Linked DNA regions of Homo sapiens. The protein of the gene in region 1 interacts with the protein of each later gene in a pairwise test. Each region holds a gene or a part of one and is shown in the gene's direction. Other genes may lie near its edges.

The links.
Region 2: the proteins of SHPRH (region 1) and LPP interact in a two-hybrid assay, tested with the Homo sapiens proteins (one large-scale study listed by IntAct).

What each region holds. Positions count from the first base shown.
Region 1 is NC_000006.12:145,919,065-145,922,887, reverse strand, and holds part of SHPRH (E3 ubiquitin-protein ligase SHPRH), read left to right. Parts: intron 1-51; coding exon 52-225; intron 226-539; coding exon 540-602; intron 603-1,495; coding exon 1,496-1,721; intron 1,722-3,396; coding exon 3,397-3,540; intron 3,541-3,823. UniProt on the Homo sapiens protein: E3 ubiquitin-protein ligase involved in DNA repair.
Region 2 is NC_000003.12:188,156,948-188,160,770, forward strand, and holds part of LPP (lipoma-preferred partner), read left to right. Parts: intron 1-3,823. UniProt on the Homo sapiens protein: May play a structural role at sites of cell adhesion in maintaining cell shape and motility. In addition to these structural functions, it may also be implicated in signaling events and activation of gene transcription.

The sequences.
Region 1 (3,823 bases):
GACCTATTATTCTTTTCTTTGTATTGTGTGTGGTGCTGGTGTGGGAATCAGGTTCCGTGATTGCAGAGGTCTTCAGTTCTTACTTACAACACAAATGGAAGAGCTAAATAAATGCCAGAAGCTAGTAAGAGAGGCTGTAAAAAACCTGGAGGGACCTCCATCTCGTAATGTTATTGAGTCTGCAACAGTCTGTCACCTCCGACCAGCCAGACTTCCTCTCAACTGGTAGGTAATAGAAGAAATCATACAATGAAATGGTACCATTTCTTTAAGCTAGATTTCTTAGAGAAGAAACAATTGACTCATATAGTAAAGGTTTTTTCATTTTAATTGAGACAGAAGTAGAAAGAGATGTATTAATCTAATTTAAAGAAAAATAAAGTCTCAAGGACAAGGTATGAAAAACCATGTGATTTGTTTTTTCTAAAATGGCATATCTAGTGGAAAGAAAAATGAAGTCAAAATATTAAGCTTCTCCTTAAAATTACCAGATTGCTGGTTATGTTTGTGAATATTTCTGTTAATCTCTTTTTTTTCAGCTGTGTCTTTTGTAAAGCTGATGAATTGTTCACAGAGTATGAATCAAAGCTATTTTCCAACACGTAAGTTCTCTATTTGATTATTACCCATCAAGAAAATGAAACATTTTGCAAGACTCAGTTATGTGATATAAGACTATGTTTTCCCCCACAGTAACCTTTATTATATTGTTTCTTTAATTAAATTGATTAGTACACCTTTGGTATTTGATTGTTTAATATGCCCAGTTTTACCTATCCAGAAGTTATCCCCTAAATGTTCATAGTGTAGTAATATATAATTAATTGAGATGCAGTTTTGTGGAGTGGTAAAATCCCAGACTCTAGAATCCAGTGGATTTGAATTATACAGATTTTGCTAGCATTTTACTGCTATTCAAGGTAGAACTCATAATGTCCGGCATAACTTCTTCAAGAATAAAGAATGACACAATCAAATATGTTATTACTTTAATGAAACCATAAGTAAACATTGTCACAAACACCTGGATTCTCAGAGGGAAGCTTGTTAGAACAATAAATGTGTCCACTTTCATCCAGGTGTATTACTATTCTATTTTAGGTCAAATCTTTTTCTGTTATTACTGAAGTAAATAATACATTTCTTCATGTTTCTGTCCAAATTCTGTTTATTTATCTCCAACAGATATAACTTCTCTAAAATAGAAATTTTCCTCACATATTTCCTTGCCAAACGTTCACTTCTGCATGTCAAGGAAGAAAACAAGATTTTTGTGTTGTTATGGCAAATGAATCAGTAGCTTTCTGTTTATTACAGTGGATATAATAGAATTTAAAAAAAAAAAAACTGGCCAAATTTATGATGTTTTCAGCTTTTTCAAGGTTGCTTTGGTTTTTCCAAAGACTTGCAAACATGTTCTTTTAGAACTCACATTGAAGGTTGCTTTTCACTCACTGATACCAGTTACTGTTGTTTTGTTCTGGTATGTTTTCAGAGTCAAAGGCCAGACTGCAATATTTGAGGAGATGATAGAAGATGAAGAAGGACTGGTGGATGATCGAGCACCTACCACCACCCGGGGTCTCTGGGCAATAAGTGAGACAGAGCGATCTATGAAAGCAATACTATCATTTGCAAAATCACATAGGTTTGATGTTGAATTTGTTGATGAAGGAAGCACTTCAATGGATCTCTTTGAAGCATGGAAGAAGGAATATAAGGTATAGTATTTTAAAACTTCCTTCCAAAATTAAAAATTCTTCTTTTTTACATCAATTTTAACTGCTACTTTTTTCTCTCTCCAGTTTTTTAAAATCTTCTTTTGAGATTGAGGTGGCATAATTTCTCTTTGCCTGAAATGTAACTGTTGTAATAAAGGATAGCAAATACCATAATACTCAAAGACATTCTATTTATTAAATTACTAAAAGAAAATCATTATTAAACTGGAACTTATATGAAACTTTTTGTTTAGCCGTGAAAGTGTGTTCATTCTATTATTAGCTTGATCTTCCACTGCTATTATATGAAATTAGAGTTTTGTTTTTGTTCTGTGAATAACAAGCAAGCATCAGCTACCTTAAAGATTGGGGAACATAGTAAATACTTCTTATCCTATAAGTTTGGAAACCATTCCAATAAATAAAGCCCGATATGCCCTTTCATATTTGTACTTTAATGATTCCATCATATTATACCTCTGTACTTGAGATTTCACAATTCATTAATTTTCAATTATTGTTTTATTTGGATTAGTTATCCATTGTACTGCTTTACAGGTGACATAGGTAGAGGAAGGAAAGAAGTGTTTTTTTATAATGACATTTTTATTCAATTTCTTTTTTAAAAAGTCTTGCTTTTTAAAGTAGGATAAAAATTTTTATGCAGAGAGATAGTTATTTGTACTATCAGTTCATATGTCATAAATTGGGGAATACATTTATAACATCAAAATCATTGGTTTATAATAATGTTTTTCTCACACATTACTCATGTGAATACAAAGCACGTTAACACAGTTAATTACAGTAAGCCTTGGAAGAAGTGTTACTTATGATGTTCAGTTGCCCCTGTATTCTTCCTTTCGACTCAGTTTGGCCACATACCCTTTGTCCAGAAGAGAGCTTACTGTGCAGTTCTCCCAGGTCTTGGTACATATTTTCTGCATAACTTTGCAGACCTTTTCACAGAAGAGCAATTGAATGAGCTCCTGCTGTACATATCTACCAGATCTACCTCAAAATGTAAAGTCAGTGAAGAGAGCCTGTCAAAAAATGTATACTGATTGATACCATTTCTGTGAATTTCAGAAACATATATAACTGAATTATTAAGAATATGTTTCACATAGTATAAGTTCAATGAAAAGTGTAGCAGGATAAGTACAATTCAGAATAGTGGTTGCCCCATGGTTGGGTACTGAAGGAGGAATATGTGAGGAAAGAGTGATACAGTTGAGAAAGAACACACAGAGCCTTTCCAAGGAATTCATATTATTCTTTCTTCAATTAAATGATGAGTACTTGATTGTATATTTTAGTATTCTTGTTGCCATTTATACATAGTTGAATATGTGAAATATGTTATAATAAAACTATTTTTAAAAAATAAAACAAGAGATTCTGTCAGCCTAAAACTGGACTTTATAAAGATTTTTGGTCTTAGCAAGAAATCTTTATATTCTGTTACTGAGAATCTAAAGAGGCAGTGTCCTATAGAGATTTTTTTCATTCACATTTCATCCTAAAAATGACCCCAGGAACTACTTGTACGTTAGACACATAGCGAAAAAGTGTAAGATCTCATTGAAGACTTTTGCTTAAGGCACATCTTGGTGGTTTTAACCAGTTTTAATTACATGCTTTACCACTGTGTTTGTCTTTTCTATTCCTTCAGTTGCTTCATGAATATTGGATGGCTCTGAGGAATCGTGTGTCTGCTGTTGATGAACTTGCAATGGCTACAGAACGACTAAGAGTGCGTGATCCTAGGGAGCCAAAGCCTAATCCGCCTGTTCTTCATATCATTGAACCACATGAGGTAATTGGCAAGTAAATCACAGAAAAGGGAACAGCAAGCAGATGTCACAGATATCTAAGACCCATAGAAAAGGCAGAATCAGGGCACTGAGCTCTACTGTAAGTGTGTATTTAATCTCCATTTTTAATTTGACCCATAGAAAATTGTCTTTATAGACCAAAAATGGTCAAAGATGAGCAATTTCATATCTATTACATGCTTAGTGTTCACTATTTTGGGGCATCTTGTTTCTCTCCAGGTTGCGCATTCATCTGTTTTTGAGTTTAAAACCTTGTATGTGCTT
Region 2 (3,823 bases), on another chromosome or scaffold:
TTTTATAGCAGATTCCTGTATTTTATTGAGACAAATACGTTGTATCGAATCAATTGTAAAACACACTTTTTTCACATTTTAATATCACTGAAATGTGGTTGTCTTATTACAATGTACCATAGTTGTGCAGTTGTTTTTCATCCTAAGTTGGTAATGGCACATCTTATAGTTGATGGCTTAAATCTGATAAAATTGTTCATCATGTCGTTTATGAATGTACAGTGCTTTGCACTTTATAAAACACTTTCCAATCAGATACTCCATTTGAATCTCAAAGGTCCCCTGAGAATGAGGCCTGCTGCTGCTGTCACCTTTATTTTAACCCTTGCCCAAGGTCATATAGCTAATTAGGGATGTGTTCAAAATTACAACCCAGAACTTTTGCTTCTTGGTGGTGACGTGTGACTTTACCCTGCTGTTGAGCCAGTCTGGGTTAATTGGGAATGGGGCAAGAGTTAGATCGGATTTGATTTCAGAACTATGCTGAAGATGCTGGATGATGGGGATTTTGTACACGGGTAGAGTGTAACTCATAAGAACTGTGTAGCCCCCTTAGCACAGATATTTGCTGCATTAAGCAGAAAAAAGACAGGGAGATAGAAAATGGCAGGTAGCAGGTAAAACCCGGGGTTGGAGCCTGCTTACGGTGAACCAGAAACTGGCTTGGCCCTGAGCGTACAAAGATGAGGTGTACATGGTCCCTGCCTTTGAGGAGCACACAAGTGTGTGGTGTGTGTGAGGGGGAGGGAAAAAGGTGGAGTGGGGCATGTCCGTGTATTAAGTGCTTTTACAGGGTAAGTTTTGGCTGCTCTTCACTGAGAAGGCTCACCCTCAGGGAAACCACTATAGAGAGGGGGGTGTCTGAGCTGAACCTCTAGGAATGAGTAGGAGTTGTCCAGGTGGAAGAAGGACAGGTGAGAGAAGGACCTATTAGCAAGATAGTAGCAGATGCAGAAGCAGGGAGAAGCTGCTTTATTCTCCAGGCTGTGTTTTGAAAGGCCAGCCATGAAGAGGACCATGGAAAATGGAGAAAGAAGAGGGCCTTTACTTTTTAATAAGTAAGGTTTAAATTAATCTCGATAGGGGCCGTTAAGTGGTTCTGTAGAGATTCACAGGAGAATAAGGCTGGGTAGGGTCTCTAGCGTCATCTCTGTGGGAGTAGTTATTTGGATGGTAATGCAGGAGGCATAGTACCACTTTTAGTCTGAGTGAACCTGGGACTTTGACCCTGGGCCGCGATTAGAGGATCCAAGCTGAGTATGTTCATTGGTGGGTGGGACTTTTCCTGGAATCTGGCTTTGGAGGGCTGTGCTTTGCTAGAAGAAACTTAGTAGAGTGAGGAAGGGGAAGATATAATCATGTTGATGCATGCAGGAAGCTAGTATCTGGGTGAAAATCTGTTGGCTTGAGGGAACATATGAGGCGGAGAACCTGAGGGCAAGGGGAAGGGTGGAAGGATTTCAAGTGTGTTGTGGAAGTCTGCTGTAGGCTGCCTGGAGGCTTGGAGAAAAAGGCTGGTGCATTCTAAATGTTGGTCACATCAGTGAGATTGGTAGGTGGATAGGTAGCTGTAGGTAGTGTAGGGATTAATGTTTGGAAGCAGGTAAACCACAGAGTTGAGGCTGGAAAATGTTTCCTTTCCTATCATTCTTTTTTAATAGTAATATAATTTTGAAATATTTTCAAATGCTTACCACCTGTTATGTAATTATCATATTGATTCATTAAAGTAGGTTTTTTGATTACCAGTCTCATTTTGCAGATGAGAAAATGAATTTGGTGAAATAAGGTTACACAACTACCAGGAGGCATTCAAACTTCTGCCTCATTCTTATAGCCTCTTCACCACTCTTTTCTATGCCCACATGCATGAAAAGCTCAAATCGACATTGCTTGTCTGTGTTCTTCCCTGGAATTTAATTCAGCCCACATTCGTGGGGCCCTAGTGGGGTCACAATTGAGGATTCACATGGACAAACGGGCTTCTCAGTCCCACACTGGTGCTGTTCTAGCCCCTTTTTCTCTCTTAAGATGCTACCTTGGGTGTCGTCTCTCCCCAAACCTAACTGGAAAGGACTAAGCCTCTCTAGCAAATCATCTGCCTCTTTCAACAGAGCTCGCTTCCCCAGTCCCTTGTTGTGTTAAGAATGTGATTTATTCTTGTAGAGAGGCAGTTAGGGTCATAAAGTAACAGAGTGGGGAAGTGACAGTCTTGAACTCAGTCATTACCTTTGATCTCACGGCTCCGGTAACGGTGCTATATGTTCTCTGGTGCTGAACCATATAGCTTCTGCGTCCTCTAGGAAAGCTTTCTGGCTCAGGGCTCTGAGGGAACACCTACAATCCTTCCTATCACCTACCTGAGTCAGATGGGTCATCTACATTTTGGCCACTCACAGATAAAAGCATTAATAATCTGTTTATTGTGTTGTGAGAGGAGACAGACCCCAGGATGTTCAGTAGCTGTTTGGTGAATGAACAATGTTTATGGACACAAATAAGCATGCATCACCACTTCATCTTACATATTTGTGTGTCTGCCTCCTCTCCACTTTAAAATAAGCTGCTTGAGGATTGCAGTGATGTCTGCTTGTTGATGGCTGTATTCCCAATGCCCAGAAGAATGCCTGACACATGGTAGGCACTCCAGAAATACTTGCTTGATGAAGAGAGGGAGTAAAATAGTTCACTGCAGCCACAGGATAGCAATCATGGGGGAGCGGGACTGTTTTTACTGCCCCAGAACCTTGAGCCAGTTGTTGCTGGCACAGGTGGCATTGGGCAGTCCTGCCAGCAGAGTGAAGATTGAGGGACTGGGAGTGTAGAGCTGAGGGTTGTGAGATTAACTATGCCAAGGTTAATTGCAGTTGCAACTGCTCTTTCACTTTTCCCTCACACAGACAGGTGGTCTGGAACAGTCCTCTGTTTTCTTCTCTTTTGAGACAGAGTATTTTTTTGTTTGTTTGTTTGGTTTGTTTGTTTTGAGACACAGTCACACTTTGTCACACAAGCTGGAGTGCAGTGGCGCAATCTTGGCTCACTGCAACCTCCACCCCCTGGGTTCAAGTGATTCTCCTGCCTCAGCCTCCCAAGTAGCTGGGATTACAGGTGCCCGCCACCACTCCCGGCTAATTTTTGTATTTTTAATAGAGACGGAGTTTCACCATGTTGGCCAGGCGGTCTTGAACTCCTGACCTCGTGATCCACCTGCCTTGGTCTCCCAAAGTGCTGGGATTACAGGCGTGAGCCACCACGCTCAGCCTTGAGATGGAGTTTTACTCTTGTTGCCCAGGCTGTAGTGCAATGGCCCGATCTCGGCTCACTGCAACCTCCGCCTCCCAGGTTCCAGCGATTCTCCTACCTCAGCCTCCCAAGTAGCTGGGATTACAGGTGCCTGCTGGCACGCCTGGCTAATTTTTGTATTTTTGTGGAGATGGGGTTTCACCATGTTGGCCAGGCTGGTCTTGAACTCCTGACCTCAGGTGATCCGCTGGCCTTGGCCTCCCAAAGTGCTGGGATTACAGGAGTGAACCACTGTGCCCAGCCCTCTGTTTTCTTAATCCATGCCTTTTCTTATGCTGTTTTCTCTACCTGGAGTTTCCAGCCTTTCTGTCTCTGCCTGTTGTAAACCTGTGATTCTAGGATCAATATCAAAATCTACCTTGTGCCATGAAGCAATTTCCAGACTCCTTAACCCTTCCAACCCACACGTATCTGTGATCAGATACAACTCAATTTCATGTATTGAGTTCGGTACTTGTGTACAAAGTGATTACTGTATGCCAGGCAGAAATGCTAGATACTGGTTACAAAGAAAACTGAG